Linked DNA regions of Homo sapiens: region 2 is linked to region 1. Evidence: fine-mapped expression QTL. A gene starts in region 1. The other region holds a variant in brackets. All regions are shown on one strand. Distances are from middle to middle. Region 1 holds the start of CYB5D1 (cytochrome b5 domain containing 1). Region 2 overlaps CHD3 (chromodomain helicase DNA binding protein 3).

Region 1 (8,953 bases):
TCCTATGGATAGAGACTATAGCACAGGAACCAGACATCCTATTTCTTGGTCCTTCCTTGCCTACTAGGACACAACATCCCCCCCACTAGGTATAGACGGATGAGTTCACTTAACATTGGAGTTCATTCAAAATTTATTGAGCTGCAACTGTGTGCTCAGCAATGAGAATATAGCAGTGAGCAAGATGTGAACAAGATCTCTGCCCTCGTGAGCTTACAATCTAGCAGCGCAGCCAGCCTATTACAGCCATAATTTTACAATTGTAATAAAAACTCTGGAAAATGCATGGTGCTAACTGATTTATCAGAAAGTCTTGACCCACCAAGAAATCAGAAAAGACCTCCCTGAGGAAGGAACATTTAGGATCAGCTAGGTGGAAAGTGAAAGGAAGAGTGTTGCAGGCAGAGAGGACAGTGTGTGAGGGTCTGAGGCAAGACATGTAATGAACTGAAAGCCAGTGTGTCTAGGCCATAGAGAACAAAGAGGGGTGTTGCGAGATGAGCCTGATTTATACAAGATCTTTGAATTTAGGACTTTATTCCAAAAGCAGTTGGAAGCCACTGAAGAAGCTAAGGAAAGTTCGATGTTTAGGTTTGTTTTTCATAGCTGACTCTCATTGCAGCATGGAAGTCAGAAGTGGAAATGGGAGAACAGGTTAGGAAGTTTCCGTAGCAGTTTAGACAAGAGGTGATGGTAACTTGGAGAAAAGAAGATAGGTTCCAGAGATATTTAGGAGACAGATTACACTTGATGAGTGACTGGATGTGTGAGGAAAGGGATGTGTTTCTAGCAAGAGACATTGAAGTAGGAGTCTCTGGAAGAGGGACAGGTTTTGGCAGAATGGGGACATCCTGTAGGCACAGGACAGGCCCTGAGGCTTGCACTAGAGGAACAGCATAGCTTTCATTCTCAAATAGTTCAGGGTTTAATTGAGCAAACAAGGTACACATAATTGCAGAGTTGATTAAAGATCAAAATGATCGATTTAGATAATTCATGGACTCCTGCATTCCATGGGGTTAGATTTAAACCCTCCATCTCACAGTAAATTCAGATACTGCCGAAGCCAACAGCAATGTTTCCACCTTTGTTCATGCCTCCCAAAGCCCCTCAGAAAATGCCTATATAGCCCACCAGTATCTCACAGGGGCCACCTTCTCCTGTGCTGGGCCCTGGTGTCCCCTGCCAGAAGACACACTAAACTCTTCCTGATTTGTTTTTTGCTTGCTGCTGCCAGGAAGTTCAACTGTCTGTCATTCTCAAATCTCCCCTCCTTAAGTTAAAGGAGACCAAATCTAGCCATTACCCCCAATAGTGGTTCTCTTTTGGTCACCAGGAGAGTTTTCTGACTTAGTTAGCATCTCTGTTTACATTACCCCTGTCGAGCTCCCTCTTTTGGAGTCACCGTCTTGCAACCCTGTCTTCCTCATCTTCTCCAAGTGGCAAACTGCCTCCTTTTTCTCCCTCGCCAAAGTGTCACTAATTTGCCGGCCTTTTCCCCACTCTAGTTTTCCTTCAAGTTAGTAAATACCCACCTCTTTGCCCCAAAAGGTCAGGAGAGAAATCTGGGGTATGGGATTAACAAAGAAGTAGCCCCAATAGCTATTGCTTAACTGACACTTAGCCTTCCTTGCCTCCTCTTCGCCACAGGAGAACTCTGCAAACTCCCTTCCAGAGACAATAACTGCAAACTATACAATAGGACCACAATTTCCTATTGTGCAGGGATCCTAGGACAAAGCCACATCCCAAATACTTGCTGAGAGCAGTGGCTACAAATGTTAACATGAGATTAGACATTGAGATGGTCCCTTTATATTGAGAGAACATGGACTTTGGAGTTGGGCAGACTTGAATTTGCATTCTGGCTCTAGTGGTTACTACCTAGTGTGGCTTTGAGCTATTAAACTTTCCAAAGTTTCGAAGGACTTATCTGTAACATAGTAATGGTAATCCACCTTATGGGGTAGTTGTCTTGAAGAGGCTATTTGGGAGGCTGAGGCAAGAGGATCACTTGAGGCCAGGAGGTTGAAACCAGCCTGGGCAACACAGCGAGACCCTGTGTCTACAAAAAATTAAAAAATTAGGCATTGTGGCGTGCACCTGAAGTCCCAGCTACTCAAGGCAGAGATGGGAGGATCACTTGTGCCCAGGAGCTCCAGGCTGCAGTGAGCCATGATTTTGCCACTGCACTCCAGACTGGGTGACAGAGCAAGACCCCTTCTCTTTGTTGGGGGCAAAAAAAAAAAAGAGGGTATATGAAGTACCTAGTATAATATCTAGCCTGAATTGCCTATAATGACGCACTTCCTTTCTTTCCCTTGGGTTTCAGCTGCCAAACACTCTTCTACAAGTAAGATAAGCCAGCTTTGTATGGTCAATGATAAACATTTCCTATTTCTTTGTAAATCCCATCTTCCTGCAGACATCTCATTTCCATCATTGCCAAAAAAGTCCTTCCATCCCTCACCCCTGTAGAACTACTCTCTCTTAACTATCAAACAGTTCTGCCTGAACTCTGACTATCCTCTTCTACATCTCCCTAAACCAAGGTACTTGATCTTCTTGTATCATTCCCAAAGATTAATTCACTAATTTTCTCAGAGCAAACTGTAATGAAGGCAGGGAATAGGGCCTTTACACTTCAGAAGGGCACAGGCTAGCTCCTGGAGAGGAGTGGAGATCTGGGTCCAGGCACCCCTCGGCCCCACCACTTTTCCTCAAGGCACAGAAAAAGCCAAACTCGAAATACGTCTTGAGTCTACACGAGTGTACATCTCCTTGCCTACAACTCCGTGAGATCATCATTGAAGTACAGAAGTATTGCAGGTGTGTGAAGTGTACCGTCCATACTGAGATAGTCAAATTCTTCCTCCTCATCCCGGATCCCATTCTCTTCCAGGGTAAAATCCATGTTCAGGTTCTTCCCTTCATATTTCCACGTGTAGCTGGCAGCATGTGAGTTATAGGGGAGATAGCGGTGTAGGATTTCCCATATGGACTCCAGAACCCCCACCTGGAGAACACAGAAGCACCCCACCCCCAGAATTCTGGATGGAGTATACATATACACACGCTGGGATCAAAGTGCCTCCCTTGGCAGATAGCAGCTTCAGGTACTCTACGGCCCCGGGAAAAAAAAGCTGAAACTCCAGCATGCAATGAGCAGACCCTAAAGTCCTACAGATCTTAATGGCAGCCACTTCTAACTACCGGATGGCCATAAAGGGTCAACTGTCCCCTCACTATATCCATGCAACAGAGTAGATTAAAAAGAAAGTCCAATTGCTGTCCAAAACGGCGTGTAAGAGCTTCGAAGGACCACCATCACTAAGATACATGAACTGCTGTTCCCAGGCTTATAAAGGAGTCTCTTGTCCCCCTGTGACCCAGACACTCCTAGAATTCCCAACCCTGGGGACCTAGGTGCTGTGCTTTCCTCAGTTGCCTCAATGTAAAGGACAGAAAATACACTCCCACCGGTTATGGAAAAAATGTTGCCCTGAAGATCGGCCTGGAGATTTGCTGGGATTCCCCATTCCTTCTAACCTGCTCCTTGTCACCAGTTCTCACCTCCAGTGTGTGCTCCTGCGACGTGAGCGTGTTAATGATGCGGATGCTCCGGGTCTTGGCAGACAGCCGCCCCACCTCATAATACGACCCCTGCCACCAGGGCTTCCCAAAATCGTTGGCCCAGTCCGAACAGGGCAGCTGAGGCGGAACGTGCACAAAGCGGCCCCGCGGGGTGCAGTACCTCAGGCAGCCGGTCAGCGGATCTATGTGCTTGCGGATCTTTAAAGGAGGGTTTGGGGCGAGGGTGTCAGAGCAGCCATTAGGCTCTGGCTAGCCTCCGCCTTTCCTTCCCATCCCCGCTCTCCATTTCCTCTACCCACAATCCCAGGTTCCAGCATAACTCACGTCTCTGGTCTTTGGATCAAACCAGTGGCTGATATCCTGGCCTGCAACTTCCACGATGGGTTTCAGCAGCAGGTTCCCTTGAAAAGAGCAGCACAGCCACTGTCAATGCCAGCCCTTCGAGAACCAGGCAAACGCGCGCGTGCACACACACACACTCCGGCCCCGGCCCAACGTGTGGCCCTTACCCTTGTATTCCTGTGCCAATGACGTTAGGTCGTACACGCGTCCCAGGTAAGATACCCAGAGGTCTTCGGGCCTGTTATGTTGGGCCACCTCCGCCGGCGTGAAATAGCGACGCTGAAAATACTCCAAGTCTGGCCCAGCCACCAGGCCCCGGCGCGGCATGGCTCTTGCTCTGTCGGTCACTGGATCTCTTGGTTACTCCTTTGCTCCTCAGCACGTACTCACTACTACTACGACCTCCGTCGCGTCCGGGAGCCGAGGGGAGAGCGTTTATCCGCTGACATGGAAACCATTGTCCTTTTCCGGCCACCGTCCACTGAGATAAATATCAGGGGCGGGGTTTGGACTGCACGTGTTCACGGGAAACGTAGTATGAGTCCCGCGTGGGGCATATAAGGATCAAGTAATTGAGTTGCGCCGCTTTCAGGAGTTGCGGGGTGGGGCAGAGAACGAATACGCTCCGTTTTAATTCAGTGGCCTGGGCTACATGGGATATTTAGGACAGACTATCTCTCTGAGACAGAAAAACAAGGGAGGAGGCAGTATGAAAGAATGTATTCTCGCTAAATTCCAGTTTCTAAAGGATGTGTAAGAAACCAGAGGTAAAGGTCTCGCGATATCTTAAGACATCCGGCGTAGTACGCTTCAGTGAGCCACAGCGCTAGAGAAGTAGGAGAAGCTCGCGAGATCTGTGCCGTTGCCGAGGAGACTAGGAGGGGGAGGAGAGGGGATCTCGCGAAAGGAAAGAGGTCGGGAGCGCTCGCGAGATCTCGGACCACCCAACCTGAAAGGTGCTTAGGAAGTTGAAAGGCCCAGAGGAGGCCTCCGGGCAAATGGCCGGAGCTGGACCGACCATGCTGCTACGAGAAGAGAATGGCTGTTGCAGTCGGCGTCAGAGCAGCTCCAGTGCTGGGGTTAGCACGGGCTCTGGTTCTGGGACTGAGGGGCAGTCAAGCAGCAAGATGGAGGGGGTGGGGAACTGCAGCTCCCGGCAGCCTCTGGGCTTTGTGTGAGTGCCCCGCGGGCTGCCGGGAGCTGTGGTTCCGCGGGCGGGCAGCCTGGGCTGCGCGGTCTGAGCGCTTGTTACACCCCGCGCAGGATTCGGACGGAGAGCGCGAGGACTCGGCGGCTGAGCGCGCCCGACAGCAGCTAGAGGCGCTGCTCAACAAGACTATGCGCATTCGCATGACAGATGGACGGACACTGGTCGGCTGCTTCCTCTGCACTGACCGTGACTGCAATGTCATCCTGGGCTCGGCGCAGGAGTTCCTCAAGCCGTCGGGTCAGTGCCCGGGGAATGCACACCCGCCTGGTAATGTGGCGGAACCTTACGCAAGGCATTTCCCCTTAAGGGCCTGGCTGCAACCCTTGTTTTCTGGGGCTCGTTTTCGTGGCTCAGAGGGGCGGGACTGATTCTGGCCTACTTTCCTGATGCTCTGATCCTTCTTTCCAGATTCCTTCTCTGCCGGGGAGCCCCGTGTGCTGGGCCTGGCCATGGTACCCGGACACCACATCGTTTCCATTGAGGTGCAGAGGGAGAGTCTGACCGGGCCTCCGTATCTCTGACCACGATGGCGCTTACCTTTCAGACTTCATTAAACTTATGACCGAATGGGCCTGTGTCTGTGTGTAGCTGGGATGCCGGTGCAGGATAGCACACCCCATCCCTAGAGGAAAGGGCTCATCTGAAGTCGGGAGCACCCTCAACCCTCCTCTCCCAACCAAGATGTCCAGGGGTGCCAAAGGTTCTCTCAAGTTCAGGGGTAGAGATGGGGGGCAGGGCTGAATGACGGACCAACAGGCCCCAGGGTGGGCCCCTGCATCTTCCCTCCCACGGCTGCTGCTCCAGAATTGTGGCGGGAGGGGGTGTCATCCTGCTCCGGAAGGCCCATTGTTTCCCACCCCGGCCTGGCAACACCGAGTTCCTCTAAGCTGGGGTCAGAGAACGGGCTCAGGTCCCCAAGGGGAGCAGCGGCAGGCGGCCGAGGCTGGGCCCCTCCACTCTATTGAGGGGGAGGTGCCTGGGGTCAGGAACAGATCTCTGAGGTCTGGCCAGGAAGAACGGACAAAAGCGATAAGGCCAGGGGGCTCAAGGATGCTCCTCTCTGCTCATTTGTAGCCCTGGCACATGTTTCCTGTTCCTCGGCACAGGGCAGGGGTGATAGTACTTGTGCCACGCCTCTGTTCGCAGAGCGCGTTCAGTTCGTTAAATCTTTATTGATGCGTGGACACTCCTTCCCCTCCAGCCCCGCCCCCCAGCCCCAGAAATACTAGAGAAGCTGCACCATAAAACGAGGGCACGAGATTGTTGTCCCATTCACGACGGAGCTGAGGGGGAGGTGTGCAGGTTCCAGCCTAGATGTTCAGGATTGAGATGTGGGTCGTGAAAGGAAAGTGGGTTTTCCGGGATGTGGGGGCTTTTCTCAGCACTGGGTCCACTGACGCTGCTGCTCCCAAGGGGATGCTAGGACTCCGCTCAGGCAGGGGTGGGGGCAGGGCAGGTCGGAAGATGCCGGGCTTCAAGTCCTTGGGCCGAATAAGAGGGAGGGCAGCCGTCAGGGTTGTTCTTGACTCGAGGGTCATTAGACCCAGACCTTTCCTGATGTGGGAACGGCCTGGGACCCTGGTGAGGCCCGGATTTGCCGCGGCTGCGGGGCGCGCCGACGCCGATAAAGGGCTCGGCTGTAGGGCACGAGGCAATCGGCTAGGCGGAGGCGCAGGCAGAGGCGGCGGTAGCTGGCCAGAGCAAGCACGAGCAGCGGCACGAGGAGCAGGAATCCGGTGACCAGTAGGGCCGTGAAACCGGGGTCCCGCAGGTGCGCGGTGCAAGGGGGTGCCTGGGAGCGCAGGAACTGTGGGAGAAGAGGCGTCAGGCCCAAGCCGACCAGGCGATACTGTGCACGGGGTGGAAACAGCCCAGGCGGGTTGAAGTTGTGGCCCATAGACCCCACCGCCAGCATCACCACACACCAACACTCACACTCACACGCACACCCCGGGGCGCACGCTCACCTGAGAGTGGCAGAGGAAGCCGAAGCCCAGCATGGTGACAGCGGGTAGCAAGATGGTCCCTAGCACCAGCACCAGCAGGAGAAGATTGAAGGCAGCCACCAGCAGATTCTGGGCTGTTACAAGAACAGCGCAGGCCCAACAGTCCAGGGGGTCCCGGGGCTCTGGGCCGTCACCAGGAACCGCTCGCTGTGCCCCGGGGACATCCGCCATGGCCCGCCTGGATCCCGCCCGCCTGGGCCGCTGCCCTTATAGCCCTCTTTCCTGCCCCTCCCCCGGCCCAGCCTCTCCCCACCCCCCTTATCCTGGAATGCGGCTCTAGGATTAGGCACCCCCCATCCCGAGGAGCGGACCAGAGCCCTGGACATTCCACAGGCGCCTCCGGGGAGGGGCTCACCCTCGCCAGGGTCTGCGCAGTCCTCCCCATCAATCACGGTCTTGCAGCCCTCCCGGTACTCAACCTGCTACCACCAGCCGTTAGCGAAACAGGATTTTTTTTCTCCGTTTATTTTTAATATTAATATTCTCACACAAAAATCACCGAAAATAGGGGTAGGGTTGGGAAGACCCCTCTGCCCCTGGGGCAGAGAGACAGTGCAGTGCGAGGGTGCGGGACTGTAAACCCCCCACCCCTCCGCAGCCCCAGCGTGGAGAAAAAACAACCAACAAAACGAAAATAAAGCCCCAGAGAAACTCACCCCGGGGTGTCCCTGCCCCAGTGAGGCCCTGGCCCTGGGTTGTTTCACACTTAAAAAGAAAAGGGGGTGGGGGTGAAGGTCTGTGTTTTTTAAAGTTGGCCGGGGCTGGGAAGGACGGGGTTCCTTTTCCTCATAGTTCTTTCTTTAAAACCTTTAATTTTTTTATTTTATTTATTTTTTTTACAAAATACCATTTCAGTTCCCACTTCTTCCCCTACAGTACAGGAGTTGCTCACCCTCAGGTGGGGCTGGGGTCGGGTCGGGAGTGGGGGGACTGGTCCGAGAAAGTGCAGGACGTAGGGGAGGGGAGCGGGTTTGAGCACCATGAGAACCCGGCTGGAGCCGCGGGCGGACGGGTGGAGACGGTCGGGCCGGGCCCGGACACACACTGGGGCGCGGGGAGAGCCCGGCGACGGGCGGTCCCTGGAGGGGCGGGCAGGATGGCTTGGGGGTGTGGGAGGTCGGGTTTTCCCAAAAATGAATAAATAGAGGTGAGTGGGACTGTTATAAATTAAAAACAAAAAAACAAGAAAAGAACAAAAAATACAAATCATAACCAAGTGAATAAAGAGACATGTACAGGGGTCACAGCTAGCATTGGAAGTAAAAAAGGAGGTTCCGGGGGAGGGGTAAAGCCCATAGAAAGAATCTCATTAAAAACCTCGGCTGCCGTAACGTCTATGTACATACACGAGCCGCGTGCATCTGCGCCGGGCGGGCGGGCGGCTGGCAGGGTGAGGGAACCCGTATGTGACCCCCGCCGCCGCCGGAGCCTGGTCCTTGTGTCTGTTGCTAAAAAGGCCAAAGTCGGTGAGGGGAGGCGCTGGTGGGCGAGGGGCTGCCAGCCCCCTCCCCCGTCTCCCATTTTTTTTCCTTTTTTCCTCATATTTGCTAAAAAAAAAAAAAAAGTTTTTCTTAATAAATTAAGTGAGGGGAGCTGCCAATGGGGTGGAAGGGCTGGGCCCGACCCCCTTCTCGGCCACAGGCGGGACCTAGGTCCAGCCCAGGCATGTGCTGGTGGCCCCGCGGCGCCTTGCGCGGGCAGGCAGGCGGGCGGGGCGTCCGGCCTCATCGCGACGTGCTGGCTGGGGCCTGGGGGGAGAAAGCCGGCGGGGGCTCAGGGAAAGGCGCGGCCGGGCTCCCGA
Region 2 (9,145 bases), 36 kb before region 1:
CAGGCCCTACTGTACCCTCATTTTATGCTGGAGTTTTGGCTTTCATGCCCTCATCGTCAGAATCCCTTGAATCCACAAGCTCATTCCCTCACCGGTGTCTCCAGTAGCTTTGCTTATGTTCTTCGTATTCAGGGATATTCATTTCATCTTCCTCCCACGTGGACTGGTCATATGGTAAGTCCCTCCATTTTACTAGATAGTGGTAATTCCCCTTTTTATCCACACTGTGGGGCAGGAGGCCATGGGGAGGAGCAGGAGGAAAATATTGCACAGATCACAAACAGAAAGAAGGCCTGAGAAACGCAATTATCAGCAAACACACAAAATTTGTCACCCAACCGTCAACAGTGAGCTGCTGGAAGGGAGATTGGAATAGTTGACCTAGCAGCCTAACCTTCTCAGGATGGTATCCTAAAAATCAGCTATCACAAAACATTCCTGGAGATCCCTCCTTATCATTTGTTCACCTAATCACTAAGTATTTTCCTCATGGAACTCAGAGTCTCGTGGGGAAGGCAGCATTGAAATAACTAAATACATACCATTAAGTTTAGGCAGTAATAAGTACTATGAAGAAGAAACATTCAAAACACTGGTCTGGATGAATTATGTCTCTCATGTTTTGCTTTCATGCCCTCATCCCCAGACTCATGTGCTATGTCTTATGCCACTGGAGATGACAGGAGGCAAAGGACAAAAGAGGCACTGCCTGGCCGGATTTTCCTCCTGTTTTCTCCCGTTCCCCTGGAGGAAACAAGGCCAGAAAGGCTGGAGCTACAGCAGAGGTTATCAAGGTTAGATCAATTACCTGGTTAATCAGCAAATACTAACATGGGGCCATCACCATGGTAAGAATAATGTCATATACCAGGTCTGACTTCCCAGGGACCGAGGATTCACCTGTGGTTGATGATGCGGTGGACGGTCATCCACTCTGGCTTGATGCCAAAACGATAGTACTTCTCCTCCATCTCAGCATAGTGCGGGTCTTTCACTTTACGCTTGTCGCTCTTCCCATCATCCTCGCCGGAGCCATAGTCCAGGGGTGGGGGCTCATCCATGTCATTCTTCCGCTGGTAGTTTCGATACATAACCAAATGGAAGATTTCCAGCTAGCAGGGCACAGAAAAAAGGGAAAGAGATAGTCCTGACACTCACAGAGGACAACAAGGAACCGGGAAGAGGCCGGCAGGAGGAATGGGACAGGGAAAGGGAGCTATGAAAAAGGATGGATTGGCCCAGGCACGGTGGCTCATGCCTGTAATCCCAGTGCTTTAGGAGGCTCAGGCGGGTGGATCACCTGAGGTCAGGAGTTCAAGACCAGCCTGGCCAACATGGCGAAACCCCGTCTCTACTAAAAATACAGAAATTAGCCAGGTGTGGTGGCGCACGCCTGTAATCCCAGATACTCAGGAGGCTGAGGCAGGAGAATCGCTTGAATGCATGAGGCGGAGGTTGCAGCGAGCCAAGATCACACCACTGCACTCCAGCCGGGGCAATAAGAGAATAACAGGCGCGTCCCAGCACTTTGGGAGGCAGAGGCAGGTGGATCACCTGAGGTTGGGAGTTCGAGACCAGCCTGATCAACATGGAGAAACCCCGTCTCTACTAAAAATACAAAATTAGCCAAGCGTGGTGGCGCATGCCTGTAATCCCAGCTACTTGAGTGGCTGAGGCAGGAGAATCGCTTGAACCCAGGAGGCAGAGGTTGCAGTAAGCCAAGATCGTGCCACTGCACTCCAGCCTAGGCAACAAGAGCGAAACTCCATCTAAAAAAAAAAAAAAATAGAAAAAAAAAGAAAAAGGATGGATTAGAGATAAATGAGTCAAAGCCAAGACGGAGAATAAATAAAATGAAACAGATGCAACAGTTTCAGAAGACAAGGCCTGGGTGGGGCTCTTACAAGCAAGAGATAGGGAATGGGATTAGAAACATTGAGAATTTTTTTTTTTTTTTTTTTTTTTTTGAGATAGAGTGTCGCTCTGTCGCCCAGGCTGAAGTGCAGGGACACGATCTTGGCTCACTGCAAGCTCCGCCTCCCGGGTTCACGCCATTCTCCTGTCTCAGCCTCCTGAGTAGCTGGGACTACAGGTGCCTGCCACCACGCCCAGCTAATTTTTTTGTATTTTTAGTAGAGATGGGGTTTCACCATGTTAGCCAGGATAGTCTCGATCTCCTGACCTCAGGTGATCCGCCCACCTCGGCCTCCCAAAGTACTGGGATTACAGGCGTGAGCCACCACACCCAGCCGAGAATTTTTTTTTAAACAGAGATGGGGTTTCACTATGTTGCCCAGGCTGGTCTCAAGCAATCCTCCTGCCTTGGCCTCCCAAAGTGCTAGGATTATAGGTGTGAGCCACCATGCCCAGCCAGGAATATTATAAAACATGGAAAAAGACAGATAAGGAAGGACATGAAGTTAGGAAAGGCTATGCTATATCTGAGGGAAGGAAGCTAACGGAGACTGAGAGAAAGAGGACTGTAGACCAAAAGAACCACATATGGAAACTAAGCAAGTAGGGTATGAAGGCCACAGGCCTGAAATGAGAGAAAACAAAGAGTATGGGAACCCAACAAACAGAGGAGTAAGAGAGGGAGAGGATGGCAGGAAATGAGGTCATGGGGGAGAGGGAAAGAAAAGGTCCTAGTACCTGAAGCTCCTTGGCCCAGGAGCAGTGCCAGTAGGATAGTCCTACCCACTTGACAAAGAACTCTCGCTCTGATCTGCCTTGAAGAGGACGGGGGGGTGGGACATCTGGATTTCCATCTGCCTGTTGAGGGGCTGGCACTGCTACAGGTGGCTCCCCCCACCGCCAATGTAGGATCTTCTGCACTCGACCCTTCAGCACGGGGCACTTTGGGATGGACACGTACAAGGAGGAGGAAAGAAAGAGGCAGAAAGAACCCATTGTTAGATGAGAAGATAGGGGTCCCACAAGGGTGGGGGAGTGCAGAGAAATGAAAAGCTGGACATGTGGGCCCCAGGGATGGGGGAAGGGATCAGGCCTGACAGTAAATACAGAGGGGAGATGTTTCCACTCACTGTGCATCGGGGACACAGCCATTCACCATTGGGAATGTCAGGCAGGGGAGGGTTTAGACAATGAATGTGGTAGGAGGAGATGCACGCGTCACAGCACAGGAGCTCCCCGCCGTCCTTGCATACGCGGCAGTACTCCATGTGATCATCCTCCTCCTCCTTCTCCCCTTCTTCCTCTCCCTCCTCTTCGTATTCTTCTTCTTCCTCCTTGGCCTCCCACTGGACCCCCTCCTTCTCCTAGGGGGCCAAGGATAGACACACAGACAGATGGAAGAAATTAAGGAATGAAACTGGAAGATACAGGCAAAGACAGGACACCTGAATCCTAGAAGTGCAGAGAAGACTGGTGGGAACTAAGGAAAAGGACACTCCAGTTTCAGAAATGTTGATTGTGGGAGAAAGGAATACATTAGGATCCTAGACACTCGGACATCTGTTACTAAGAAGTCCAGCCATCTGGGGGCAGGAAGAGGGTAAGTGAAACCAAGGGGGAAAGAGATGGGTGGGTTCCTCAGGGCCATCAGATGCTGGCATTAGGTACTCACACAGTGAGGGCAGCTCCATTTGCCCTCTGGAGCCCGGTCAAGCTCAGGATCAAGGCAGACGAGGTGGTAGGCACGAGGGCAGGTGTCACACAGAATAATTTCCCCACCCTGCTGGCACACCTCACAGTAATCCTGGTGATCCGTCTCGTAGCCATCAACCTCCTCCTCCCCGGCCACTGCAGGACAGCCCAGGACTGTCATATACCCCGGTGGAGGGATAAGGAAGCAGGGCAGGGGGAGATGGAGAGAGAGAGGGAGAAGGGTTGAAGAGAGAAGTCAAAATTGAAAATAAGAATGAGAGGACGGCCCACTGACAGGATCACACACAGTCAACACTCCTTACCCTTCTTCTTCTTCCTTCCTGGCCGGCCTCTCTTTAGTTTCTTGGTGCGGACAGGGCCATCAGGCCGGCCTGAGGCACTGTGGACACTGCCACTGTCCAGGTCTGATTCCTCAGCCTCTGGTTCAGGACCTTCGTCGCTCTGAAAAACATACTGCCCATAGCCCCGTGGCCGTCAGTGAGGCAGACTTCATTCTACGCCCTCCCCAGGCCTTTGGCTTCCTGTTCCGCCATCCCTCACGGATCCCTGTCTCTGGATCCTTGGCCCTCACGGATCCCTGTCTCTGGATCCTTGGCCCCCAGGTGTTTAGTAGACAGGGACGGGTCACTCACCGAGCCTCCTTTCTTCCTCTTGCCACCCAGAAGCCCTAGTTTTATTTTGAGTGGTGCCATTTTCTTTCCCCGAAGCTTCTTGCGTCCATCAGGCACTCGGGGGCTCTTACTCCGCCTCTTATGGCCTGGACCTGAATGAGGAGTCGGGGTGAGAAGAGGAAAAAGGAGAGGTCATGACATCCTGGAATTATGGAGGTCACAGGGGCCTCTGGATTCCTCTGTGGGCTGTGGTTTCACTAAGCCCCACTTCCTGGAAAGCATCTCTCCTCCAGCAATCAGGGCTGGGAAGGCGAGAGTTCCAGACTCTAATGTGAAGACATGCAGTTTGGAAGGTGAGATGACAGTTGTTGGAAGAG[A/T]GTTCCCTACCTTTGCCCTCTTTGGTTTTGGCTCTTCGGATGGGTGGGGGCTGGATATCAGCAGCAGGGGGTGGTGGAAGGGCGGGGGGTCCGGAGGGTGCTATGGGGGTGGCCGACGAGACAGCAGCTGACACCTGCTCAGCTACAGCTGCTGCTGCTGCTGCCGCTGCCGCCGCCACAGCAGCTGCTGACCCCTTGAAGGGGTTGTTGGCACTGAACTCTCTCCATTTGGCCCCAAGGATGGTCATCATCTTAGACATTGGGATCTTAGGATTCTTCTTAGCAATTAGGGGCCTGTAAATATAGAAGCAGAAAACTCGGACCCTTCACAGATGGTCTGGGAACACTGCCATCTCCCCTCATCAATTAAATCTATGTACATGCTAGGATTCCTGGGTGGTGAGAATATGTCCTATTAGGAAAAACAGCCATTTAAAAAAATAAATAAAAAGAAGTTTAAAAAAAGCGGGGAAAGAACAGGTTTAAAAAAGCATTAAAAAAGAAATACAGGCCAGGCACGGTGGCTCATGCCTGTAATTCCAGGCTGAAGCAGGAGGATTGCTTGAGCCCAGGGCTATGAGATAAGCCTGGGCAACAAAGTGAGATCCTGTCTCTACAAAAAATTAAAATAAAAAAAAATAATTAGCTGGGTGTGGCAGCACCTGAGGCTGAGGCAGGAGGGTGGCTTGAGCCCAGGAGTTGGAGGATATAGTGAGCTATGATCACACCACTGCAGTGCAGCCTGGGTGACAGAATGAGACCCTGTCTTTAAAAAAAGGGAAATAGGCTGGGCGCAGTGGCTCACGCCTGTAATCCCAGTACTTTGGGAGGCCAAGGTGGGAGGATCACGAGGTCAAGAGATGGAGACCATCCTGGCCAACATGGCGAAACCCCGTCTCTACTAAAAATACAAAAATTAGCTGGGTGTAGTGGTGCGCACCTGTAGTCTCAGCTACTCGGGAGGCTGAGGCAGAAAAATTGCTTGAACCTGGGAGGCAGAGGTTGCAGTGAGCCAAGATTGCGCCACTACACTCCAGCCTGGCGACAGAGTGAGATTCCATCTCAAAAAAAAAAAAAAAAAAAGGGGAAATAAAAAACAGCGAAATAAAACTTAAAAGCATAAAAGGTTAAAATAAAATCAACAAAAATGCTTTACTTTTGTATACTACTTTACAGTTCATAAAACCCTTTCACATACATTCCACCTTATCTTGTCCTCACAATAATACTCTTGAGTTGCTATGATTCTCTGCATTTTACTAGTAAGTTCCATGGGCCCTGAAGATGGGCTTCCGTAGGACGGAGTGTGAAAGAGTCAGACCATGCTGGTTCTGCTCTGGGGTGGGGTGCTCAACTCTTGTGCGGACACGGGTGATCCATGGTGCTGAGAAAAGCCCCAAGTTCAGCAGTAAGGTAGGTGAGACAACGTTACTAATGACAGTCACCAGTTACTGAATGCTCCCTAGGAGCCAGGCACTGACGGTACTGTGCTTTCCATTCATTATCCCACCAAACCCACACAGATTCCTATGAGGTATATATTATTATTCCCCGTTTATAGAAGAGGAAATTGAGGATTGAAGAAGTTCAGTCACTTGCCCAAAATGTAACCAGATGTGAACCTCAGCAGCTGCCTCCAGAGCACTGAACTGATATGTTAAAGTGCCTTCTCCCCAAAACAAAATACATCGGCACTATTTTTTCTTTTTTTTTTTTTGAGACGGAGTTTCGCTTGTTGCCCAGGCTAGAGCATAGCAGTGGTGTGATCTCGGCTCACTACAACCTTTGCCTCCCGGGTTCAAGCGATTCTCCTGCCTTAGCCTCCCGAGTAGCTGGGATTACAGGCATGTGCCACCACGCCCAGCTAATTTTTTTGTATTTAGTAGAGACGGGGTTTCACCATGTTGGATGGGCTGGTCCTGAACTCCTGACCTCAGGCGATCCACCTGCCTTGGCCTCCCAAAGTGCTTGGATTACAGGCATGAGCCACTGCACCTGGCCCATCTCTGCTATTTTCTACTCTACTATTCTCTACTTTTCTTCAGGAGCCACTGAAGCTCAGGTCCCACTGCCAGCAGTGGACCCTCCATTATTACCAGGGCCTAAGGAAGGGGCACAGGACCTGCTAAGTGAGCTAAGGAAGTTCAGGAACACTGATGGTATCTCTCAGGTCCAGTCTAGAGAGAAGTCACAGAGCAGAAGATGGAGCTGTTGGGGCAGGGGAGGGCTCACTATATTCTGTCCTCACTTTATTCTGTTGCTAAAGAGTTCTCTAACCCAGCACTGGAATCATGATGGCCCCTCCACCCCTCGCCCCTCAGTGAAGAGTTCTCAACTGGGGTTCTTGGATCCTTATGAGTCTAGGAGTTCCCTGAAATGACGTGTAGAATTTGGTGTGTATACACCGTGAATTCTCTGGAGAGCAGTTTCATAGCTTTCATCAGATTCCAAGGGGTCCAGGACCTCCCTCAAATTAAAAGTGTCAATTAGCGAGGATTCCCCAGTCTTACCGCACCTCATGAACTGGCTGAAGGCTTTGTAGTTGGTGAGCGTGTGGTAATCCTCCTCAGAGAACACATGCTCCACATCCTCCAGGCCCCAGGTCAGAAGCAGAGTTGCTGATGACTTCTGTTCCACTTGCTGCGGGAGAGGGGCTTTGGTGAAGTAGGTGCTCCTCCAGCCCCTATTCCAGGCCGCACACAGGCCTGTCTACCTACCCACTAGCTTCCCTGGGCTTTCTTGCTTCTTGCCCCATTCTCCAGTCCAGTCTCCATTCCTCCCCTCCTCATGCCCGTCTTTAATGCAGATTTCTCACTCTCATTCCCTAATTCTACTCACCTTTTGCCCCCCATCTCCCTCCCCCTTTTTCCGCCGCTTTGTCTTCTTCTCCTTTTTTTCTCGGTGCTTCCTTCTTCGTTTCCGACCCGGTCCGGTTCCATATTCACTGCCCCCACTCTCTGACTTCTCCCGGTACTCATCTCGCTCAGAACCAAATTCCTCCTCACTGTCCTAAGAGAAAGAAATAAAAATAACATTTATTCATCCCTACCATTGCCAGAAACTGTTCTCAGCACATACCATATCTTACCTCTTTTAATCTTCACAACAATCCTGTGATAGTAACTAATTTTTTATCTCCTTTTTTTTTTTGGAGATGGAGTCTTGCTCTGTCACCCATGCTGGAGTGCACTGACGTGATCTCGGCTCACTGCAACCTCCACCTCCCGGGTTCAAGCGATTCTCCTGCCTCAGCCTCCTGTGTAGCTGGGATTACAGACGTACCACCGCGCCCGGCTGATTTTTGTATTTTTAGTAGAGACGGAGTTTCACCACATTGGCCAGGCTTGTCGCGAACTCCTGACCTCAAATGATCTACCCGGCTCAGCCTCCCAAAGTGCTGGGATTACAGGCGTGAGCCACTGCAACCGGCCTTTATCTACTTTTTACAGATGAGGAAACTAAGGCACAGAGAGCCAAATAAACGGCCTGGTATCCTAGACAGAGGAATGCTGGACTCTTGAATTCATACAGTCTTCCAGAGCTTGTGCTTTCAACTGCTTCTCTTTGCTGCTGAGGACACACTGACAACGAGGCTCTTCACTAGGTTGCAGTGAATGAAGTTAGGGTCCCAGATCCCTGAGATACAGGCCAACAGTGGCAGGGAAGTGGGGGGCCCGGGGGATCAAGCCTCCCTGGCTTCAGAACCCCACCCCCACACCAGTAATCAGGACCAGAGAAAATGTAGGTCTCTGAGAATGGGTCTCTTGAGCCTTGCCACAGAGTTAGGAATTCTTGACACTTACACGCTTCTTGCGTTTTCGGGGTTTTCCTGGCTTGTTCTCCTTCTGCTTCTTGGGTCCTCGTTTTCTCTTCTTCACACCCAATGCTGACGGCAGCAGCCGAATGTCATCCTTATCTTTGAAGCAAAAAGCATCAGAAAACCTAAGCCTCTAGGTTTCCAGCCTCTGAGGCCCCTCAACTTGCCCCTTCCCCACCTCGGCAGTTCCCACTCTCTAGGAAGCATTAACTCCTCCAAGCCCTGCCTCCCTTCACTGGATGCAAACAGAAAGTGTTTCGAGTACTCTGGGATGCTCTGGTTCTGAATGGGAGGTCAGGGGTCAGAAGAGAAGAGCAGCCAAACCACTCCCCTCCCTCCCCTCCTACTAACAAGAGACCAGGCTCCAGGCCATGGGCTCTGACTGTGGCAGGTCCTTTCAGTCACCGCCAGGGCTCCTCCTGCCTTCCCCCTCACTTCGCCAGCTGGCATCCTGCCCAGGAACTGGGGAAGCCATGCCCAGCTGCTGGCCTGGCCTGACCCCAGCACTTGGAGTGGGGAGACACAAGCTGGCAGCTCCCTAAGCCAGATGCTGGGGAGGGAGAGCCAAAGGTGGACACCTGGGTTCTCACACTAACACCCTGGGGCCCTGACATCCTTTTGCCAAGAGGGAGGCCTCTATTTACATTTCCTCGGATAATTACCAGGCATCCTGTCACCCCAACACAGTCCTGGAGGAAAAGAAATCCTCAGCT

What was found. PIP is the estimated chance that this variant, and not a neighbour inherited with it, causes the effect.
Region 2: its variant is fine-mapped to the expression of CYB5D1 in whole blood (TOPMed, PIP above 0.99).

What each region holds. Positions count from the first base shown.
Region 1 is chr17:7,853,445-7,862,397 of GRCh38, reverse strand. It overlaps CYB5D1 (cytochrome b5 domain containing 1), which reads right to left and starts at 4,395. Exons shown (of 4, transcript NM_144607.6): 1 at 4,104-4,395; 2 at 3,919-3,995; 3 at 3,574-3,792; 4 at 116-3,016. The coding sequence starts at 4,263. The coding sequence ends at 2,786. It overlaps KDM6B (lysine demethylase 6B), which reads right to left. Exons shown (of 24, transcript NM_001348716.2): 24 at 7,602-8,900. The coding sequence ends at 8,877. TMEM88 (transmembrane protein 88) reads right to left here and starts at 7,332. Exons shown (of 2, transcript NM_203411.2): 1 at 7,114-7,332; 2 at 6,299-6,953. The coding sequence starts at 7,323. The coding sequence ends at 6,684. It overlaps NAA38 (N-alpha-acetyltransferase 38, NatC auxiliary subunit), which reads left to right and starts at 4,839. Exons shown (of 3, transcript NM_001320925.4): 1 at 4,839-5,015; 2 at 5,200-5,383; 3 at 5,555-5,713. The coding sequence starts at 4,935. The coding sequence ends at 5,667. RefSeq lists enhancers at 3,418-4,279, 4,085-4,304, 4,633-4,927, 4,655-5,024, 4,280-5,142 and 3 more.
Region 2 is chr17:7,889,050-7,898,194 of GRCh38, reverse strand. CHD3 (chromodomain helicase DNA binding protein 3) reads right to left here. Exons shown (of 40, transcript NM_001005273.3): 1 at 9,095-9,145; 2 at 8,419-8,531; 3 at 7,454-7,624; 4 at 7,131-7,255; 5 at 4,626-4,909; 6 at 4,260-4,390; 7 at 3,930-4,080; 8 at 3,587-3,780; 9 at 3,045-3,278; 10 at 2,653-2,856; 11 at 901-1,112; 12 at 93-224. Among named protein-coding and RNA genes, the nearest start is that of CHD3, 4.8 kb to the right of the region's middle. RefSeq lists enhancers at 3,248-4,447, 8,405-8,974. The variant A/T (reference allele first, on the strand shown) is at 4,616.